Homo sapiens: one gene and its partner. The protein of the gene in region 2 purifies or fractionates together with the protein of the main gene of each other region. This does not show direct contact. Each region holds a gene or a part of one and is shown on either strand. Other genes may lie near its edges.

What was found.
Region 1: the proteins of RBM12B (region 2) and RNF20 purify together in Homo sapiens (affinity purification with mass spectrometry; one large-scale study listed by BioGRID and IntAct). This does not show direct contact.

What each region holds. Positions count from the first base shown.
Region 1 is NC_000009.12:101,536,762-101,540,585, forward strand, and holds part of RNF20 (E3 ubiquitin-protein ligase BRE1A), read left to right. Parts: intron 1-3,441; coding exon 3,442-3,609; intron 3,610-3,728; coding exon 3,729-3,824. UniProt on the Homo sapiens protein: Component of the RNF20/40 E3 ubiquitin-protein ligase complex that mediates monoubiquitination of 'Lys-120' of histone H2B (H2BK120ub1).
Region 2 is NC_000008.11:93,730,976-93,734,799, forward strand, and holds part of RBM12B (RNA-binding protein 12B), read right to left. Parts: coding exon 2,430-3,824; 3' UTR 1-2,429.

The DNA of each region.
Region 1 (3,824 bases), on a different chromosome or scaffold from region 2:
ATAGCACACACCCCAGTGTGGACTTTATCCAGAGGCAATGAGGAGTTAGTGGATAGTCTTAAGTAGGAGACTAACATGCTCTGACTTGTGTTTGGAGACTATAGAAAAGCAAGGATTATAAACAAGAGTCCAGCTAGCAGACTTTTTTCTTTTCTTCTTCTTACTCTCTTTCGCTATAACTGCATCTCTCCAAAGGTGGGGATCTGAGGCATGTATCCACTGATCCCCGCTCCAATTGGTTGAAGGTTGCCATTGAAAGCAGTCCCTCCTGTGCATTTTGAGATTGCTGTTAGGAGCCAGCTGTGATTGCGGGACAGAAAAACTGAGTCTCCAAAGTGTGCTTGAAGTGGGAACAATGGCAGTGTAAATGGAGCTGTCCACCACAGCTGTGCTGAAATCTGGCAGGCTGACAGGACTTAGCACAGAGTTTTTGCTATAGGAGGCCTTTGCAGTAATCTTAATGAGAAATCATGGTGGCTTGGACCACTGTGGAGGTAGCATTGATAAGATCTGCTGATGGATTGGATAACTCACATGAAAGATAGGAGGGAGGATCATCCCAGGATTTTGAAAGTAATGGAATTTTTACTTACTGAGCTAGAGAAGTGTATGAGAGGAGCAGATTTTTGGGAGTCATGGAGGATGAATTGAGTTTGGTTTGGTTTGGGACATATAAGTTTGAGATACTTATTTGACCTCTGAATGGATAGGTAGTTAATAAGCTGGATACTAGAGAGAGGTCTGGGCTAAAGCTGTATATTTGGGAATCGTCATTTTGTAAGTTGTGTTTACATCTATGAGACTACAGACTCCTTTAATGAATAAGCATAAAGAGGTCTGCTGGGGCACTACAATATTTTCATGTCAAGGAATGAGAAAGGACTAATCAAAGATACAAACAAAGAGGGACCAATGAGGTAAGAGGATAGGAAGAGAGAATGGGTTCCCAGAAGCTCAATGAAGAAAGTATTTCAAGAAGGAGCTGATTAGGTGCTGCTGATGTGTTCTCATTCAGGTTTCAGTTGGAACAAGGGGAATAAAGGGAGGACTGAGGTGTTATATTTAATAATAGTTCACTGGAGATACCAAAACACCTTTGTTGGTGAAATAGTGGGGATGGCACCCTGTTTTCAGTGAGCTTAAGAGAATATGAGGGGAGAGGAATTAGGAAAAAGAGAGTAGAGACAATGCTTTATAAAGGAGTATCGCTGTAAAGTAGATGACTATATAATGACTGATCATGGAATTTAAGTTCAGTAAAGAAGGAGGTGAGAGAAGTGAAAGGTATAGGACCAATGGATTGTAGATCCTGGAGAGGTTAAAGAATTTTTGGAGTAAGGAAACTGGAGAGAGTGAGCTGGAAAAATAGTGGTAGTTGTGAAGAATGAGGTGTTTGAAATTGAGCTTATAGAGGACATGTAGGTACAAGTAAGACTAAATGTGGGAGTTGGTGGCTGAAGGAGGTAGAAGACAAGATCATTGGTGAAGAGGAGGTCAGTGACTTGATGATTCAAGTATAGGAAAGGTTATCTGTATGGGTATTGAAATCATTAAGAATGATGACAGGAAAAGTATTGGAGAGTGATAATAAGGTAGGTGCTAAGTCTTTGTGAAATGTGAGGAAACGACGTGGGCATTTACAGATGAATTCAACAGAGCATGGCGGCAGGTGGTATAGGCTAATGGCATGAGCTGCAGAGGTAGGAGGTTTTAGGGAGGAAGGTGGGGTAATGGCCTGGAAGTGGCAATGGAAAATAAGGAGGATATTCATCCCTCTCTGGCTTCAAGGGGTGTGGAAGAGAAACAGCCACCACTAGAGAAGCCTGCAGGGAAACAGTTTCTCATCCAAGTTTCAGTTAGAGCAAGAAGGGAAAGGCAATGTTCAGAGAAGAGTTTGAGGATATAGTTTATTAATAGTGTTAATAAACTGGTACAGTGGGAAAACTGTTGACTACTTTGGCATATTAGGAATGTTTTAATTAAAGTGGAAAAGAGAAAAATGAAACAAAAATTGGTGGTGTAATAAACAATTGTCACTTTAAAATAATGATTTCATTAATTCCTCAGAAAAGTAAGACTATTTTTCCACATGCTGGTTCTTTGCTTGTTATATCCTCCAATCCCACCTCCCACCAACCCCTCCCTGGTTTGTCCTAGGGAAGGAGCTGGAGAGAGAAAAATATTGAGAGGGATGTGAAATTACTAATGGAGTGAGGGTTTTGTAGAGACAGAAGAGAACAGGATCCTGAGCACAAGCTGAGGTTTTAAGAATGTGTGCATAATTGTGTTAATGGGTCAAAGAGATGGGGAATTGTTTTCCATCTGATGGCTTCTATTTTCTCATTAAAATAGGAAGTAAAGCCATCTGTTTTGTATGATGTAAAAGGGGGCAGGGTTTGGTAGAGGTTGATGTTGCCTTGCTGGAGAATGGGAAATAGCTCACTTGATAAAGAAATATTTCTAGACAAATTATAAAATCTGTTTAGGCTAAGAATTCATTTTGTAAAGGCACCGGTTTCGGTGGTTTGATGAACTTCTCTAGAAGTCTCAGCATACTGGGTACAGGAATGGAATAGCCAGATAACTGGATTAATTCAGATTGGGGTTTGTTGACAGAGATAGAATAAAAGGATTAAGGGCAGAGAACCAAGGAGGCTGTTAGGCAGGTGTTTGAAGGAATGTACTATATAGCATATGATTAAGATATGGAAGGTAGCAGAGATAGAAGGAGACCGAAAAGGAGAAAGAAAAGAATTCAACATTCTGGAGATCTTGATGAGGTAAAGGGATTGGTATATTGGGTTAAGGGCATGAGATACCTGGAAAGACGTGGTGTTTTTCAGGGAATGGGAAGTTGGAATATAAGATTTCAGATGTGGTACAGTTCCAGATAATGACAAAAGTCTGAGATGTGTCTTTTGAAGTGCATGGCTGAAGCACAGTGGAGGAGATAATGTTTGGAGTGAAGGAACTGGAAAAACTGACAGCCTAGATGCTAGAGGATTAGATGGTTTGTCCACATGTATGGTGAAGTCACCAGATATATTGGCAGGAACTGGGATAGACAGGGACCCAGGTGCTGAAGTCTTTAATGAAGGAAGGATGGTGCTTACGAGATAGAAGACAGTGTTGATTGGAGTCGAGGGTGATCTAGCTGGATGGTGGCCTTAAAGCAGCATTACTTTGTAGATGTTTATGTGACTAGAACAGCGAGATGGGTTGAGGTTCTGGTGTATTTGTGTGTATTATTCTTTCCTCACACCATCATATACCTGTTGTTTATCTCTTCTGCTTCTACTTCTTAATTACTTGTAAGATTTTTTAAAAGTCAATAGCTTTATTCATAGAAAATAACTAATGAATAATTGTGACCTTGTTGAGTTTAACGGCTCATTTTTCTTATTTCTTTGTGGAGACTAATACGATTGGTTTACTGGGCAGGAGGAACTAGACATTAGAACACTGCAAACCAAAAATCGCAAGCTGGCAGAAATGTTGGATCAGCGGCAGGCCATTGAAGATGAACTTCGTGAGCACATTGAAAAACTGGAACGACGACAGGCCACTGATGATGCCTCACTATTGATTGTCAACCGATACTGGAGTCAGGTAGCTAACTTGTTTATTTGTTCAGATTTTTATTTGACCAATTTAGTTCTCCTTACTGTTCTCTTCATTTCCAAAGTTGTGTCCTTTGTTTCTTCATAATTGTACCTACCCTTCTCCAGTTTGATGAAAACATCCGTATCATCCTTAAACGTTATGATCTGGAGCAGGGCTTGGGAGACCTACTCACAGAACGAAAAGCCCTTGTTGTGCCTGAA
Region 2 (3,824 bases):
CACAGTGAGACTCTGTCTCTACAAATAATAAAAAATTTAGCCAGACAAGGTGGCACACACCTGTAGTCCCAGCTCTCAGGAGGCTGAGGCAGGAAGACAGCTTGAGCCCAGGAGTTAGAAGCTGCAGTGAACCATTATCAGACCACTGCACTCCAGCCTGGCCAGCAGAACAAGACTCTGACTCTTAAAATAATAAAACTACAAAGCTTATGTTTACTCTAGCTGGCCTCTTATCTACCACCACCATCCCACCTCAGCCCAGTTTGAAATGCAATTCCACAGTAAGTAATCCCTCACGTTAAGCTTCATCTTAGCTTTATTCCTTTGTATCTGAGAAGCATTTTTTAACTTTCCATATATTATTCAAAATGGGTGACCAAATGAACCATCTATACAATCTTTGCTCAATTAAAAATATCATTTCTACTTTCTTCATTGTGCTTGGTTTGGATATTCCAAACAATCAATTTAACATTATCCTAGCTACTTACAAGCTTATACTTTAAAGAATCATACTGAGGTGCTTTTTCATATCAAATTTACCTGTTTATTCATTCCATAGCAAGCAGGATATTCACTATTTAAAACAAATTTAAGCAGATTTCTGTTAGATTTCTTTAAATCACTGAAAAGTAACACAAAAATACATATAGGTAGTAACTAAGTACTGACAAAGTATTCTACCTATGCAATATCCTATTAAATGTCTAAATTACCATATGTAAATTTAATTGTATTATTTACTCAATGGGGAAAATCTGGATTACAGAACTGAGGAAAATTATGTTTTATGTAAATTATAAAAGGCCAAAGTCAATCATGTTGAATAAAATAATTTTGAAATATAAGCCAGTAATATACCATATGAGTATCCCAAGAGAAACCCTGGATAGAAAGAAACTTTTAAAGTCACTCTTTTTTTTTTTATTAGTAATGTTAATGTTTGAGCTCAGTGTTTGAGCATGCTGGTTTTACCTATTTATGCTAATTTTAAACCAACAATTGAAGTGAGAAAATAATCATTTATCCTTGAAAGTATCTTTAGCATGGTCTTCCTAATTAAAAATACCACTTAAAAAAGTGAGGCAGCAAAAGCATGAACTGGAGTCAGTGGTCTGTCTGGGTTAAAATTGGCCCCACGATTTACTACCTATGACTTCAAGCAAGTTGCTTAACCTCGCACTTCATCCCACTTCATTATCTCATTTGTGAAATAGAGGTAAATAATTAACCCTGTACTCACAGGGAATACCGAGATTATGCATGTAAAGTGCTTACAGTGCCTAGCACATAGTAAGTGCCTAATAAATGTTAGCCATAAATATTATTGTGGGTATAGAAAATCAAATTCCCTAGTTGCAAAATGTATGCACTAAATGCTGAATATCAAAGAAGTCAAAATTCAACCACACAAGTCTTAACAGTTATAGAGTCTTTGCATGGACACAGTTTCGAAGCTAAAAAATGAGAACCTAATATTACATGCAAGTTATGTGACTCATCAGTAAATTCTTCCTAGAAAAACAAACTATACCACTTGTCAGATTCTTCCAGCATAAGCCTGAGTCCCCTTGCACCTATAATTAGATTCTTATTTTACTATCTTTTGCGTATCTTGTATTAATTTTACTTGGTTGATAAGATGTTGAAGAAACCATGGAATTATACACAGCACTATACATTATTACTATAGAATGTCTGGTCCCTCCCATCATAAATATGGTTTAATGAAGTTATTGAAAAACTTCACAATATCGAGCTGCAATTCTTTTTTCTTTTTATACAAATACAAGTTAATTAGCTCTATTAAGTTGCAATTTTATTTTTATAAAGCTTTGTAAAGTTATGAACATGGAAACCCTAAGAATCACCTAAGCTTTTTACATAAGTAAATTTCAAGTTGACAGTCTGTCCATTTTGAACTATTTATAATTAACAGGACACTTAACACAGTAATATCTTAGACAAGGAAGAGGGCATTAATTCTGCAGGCAGGTAGCAATGAAAATGCCAAACCTGAACAATCAGTCACTATTTCCTTATACAGTTTGAGTAAAAGAGGTAGACTACAGAAAGAAAAAAAAAAGTGAATATAAAATGTATCTTCCCCAAATACAACTCTACTTCAATAAGTCTTGAAGATTACCGATGACATCAACAAAAATGAATGAACTCAGGGAATGAGTTCTTTCTCCCCATCAAAGAAAAAAACAGCATGTGTAATTTTAAATTTGAAAAAAAAAAAGAATGGCAATTTGCAAGCAAAAGAAAACCAGATTCACATTCTACTATTTACATTTGTTCTATTCACAGGTCAAAAATAAAATATTTCATTAGATAATTTAAAAAAAAAACACTTTTTTAAAACAAATGTATTTTACTCCATCAATACTGCAAGGAAGATAACTGAATTTAGAAATGCTCTCTCTCTACAGCAAAGTTAACTTAACTTTTCGGGGCCCAACTGGCCTATCATTTAGATCTTTAATAGCAGCCATAGCTTCATTATAGTTTATCATAGCAACAATGGCTTCCCCTGTAGGTAAGCCTTGCTCATTATACTGTATCGAAACTGAATCAGGTATGATTCTGTAACCATGGAAAAAGTCTAAAATTTCATTCACATTAGCTTTAAATGGAAGATTCATTATCTTAATAGGAGTTACTCTACCTGAACCACAATTTATTTTTGGATCAGGCATAAATCTCCCCTCAGGAAAACTTCCCATATTATGCTTTCCAAAATCAAACTTGCCACCTTCTGGGCGACCAAAATTCACAAAAGGGCGGTGACTTCTAAAATCATCAGGCGGGCTCCTAAAATCCTCACCAGGAGGTCTAAAATTGTCAGGAAGTCTAGGGTCCTCCTCCGGAGCTTCCCTAAGGTCTTCCTCTGGGAGCTGCCTGAAGTCCTCATCAGAAGGGCATCTAAAATCTTCCTCCTGGGGGCTCCTGAAGTCCTCATCAGGAGGGTGCCTAAAGTCTTCATCAGGAGGGCCCCTGAAGTCTTCATCTGGTGGGTGCCTGAAATCTTCCTCTCGGGAGCGCCTGAAATGCTCCTGAGGCGGCCGCCTGAAATGCTCCTGGGGCGGTCTCCGGAAGTGCTCCGGGGGCGGGCGCCTGAAATGCTCTGGGGGTGGCCGCCTGAAGTGCTCTGGGGGTGGCCGCCGGAAGTGCTCTGGGGGAGGCCGCCTAAAATGCTCTGGAGGTGGTCTCCGGAAATGCTCTGGGGGTGGCCGACGGAAATGCTCCTGAGGTGGCCTCCGGAAATGCTCCTGGGGTGACTGCCTGAAGTCCTCCTCAGGGGAATGCCTGAAATCCTCCTCTGGGGGCCGCCTGAAGTCATCCTCGGGTGGTCGCCTCCATTCTCCCTGAAGAGGCCGCCTAAAGTCCTCCTCTGGGGGCCGTCTCCAGTCCTCCTCAGGTGGCCGCCTGAAATCTTCCTCTGGGAGCCACCTTAAGTCCTCCTCAGGGGGTTGCCTGAAGTCCTCCTCGGGGAGCTGCCTGAAGTCCTCCGTGGGAGACCGCCTGAAATCCTCCTCCAGTGGCCGCCTCCAGTCCTCCTCAAGGGGCCTCCTCCAGTCCTCCTCCCTAGGGTGCCTGAAGTCATCCTCCGGAGGGCGCCTGAAATCTTCCTCCCAAGGGCGCCTGAAGTCCTCCTCAGAAGGCCGCCTGAAGTCTTCCTCCCTAGGTCGCCTGAAGTCCTCTGGGGAGTGCCTGAAGTCCTCCGGGGGGAACCTAAAGTCCTCTGAGGAGTGTCGGAAGTCTTCTGGAGGGTGCCTGTCAGGCTGCCGGAAATCCCTCTGGGGATGCTTGAAGTTATC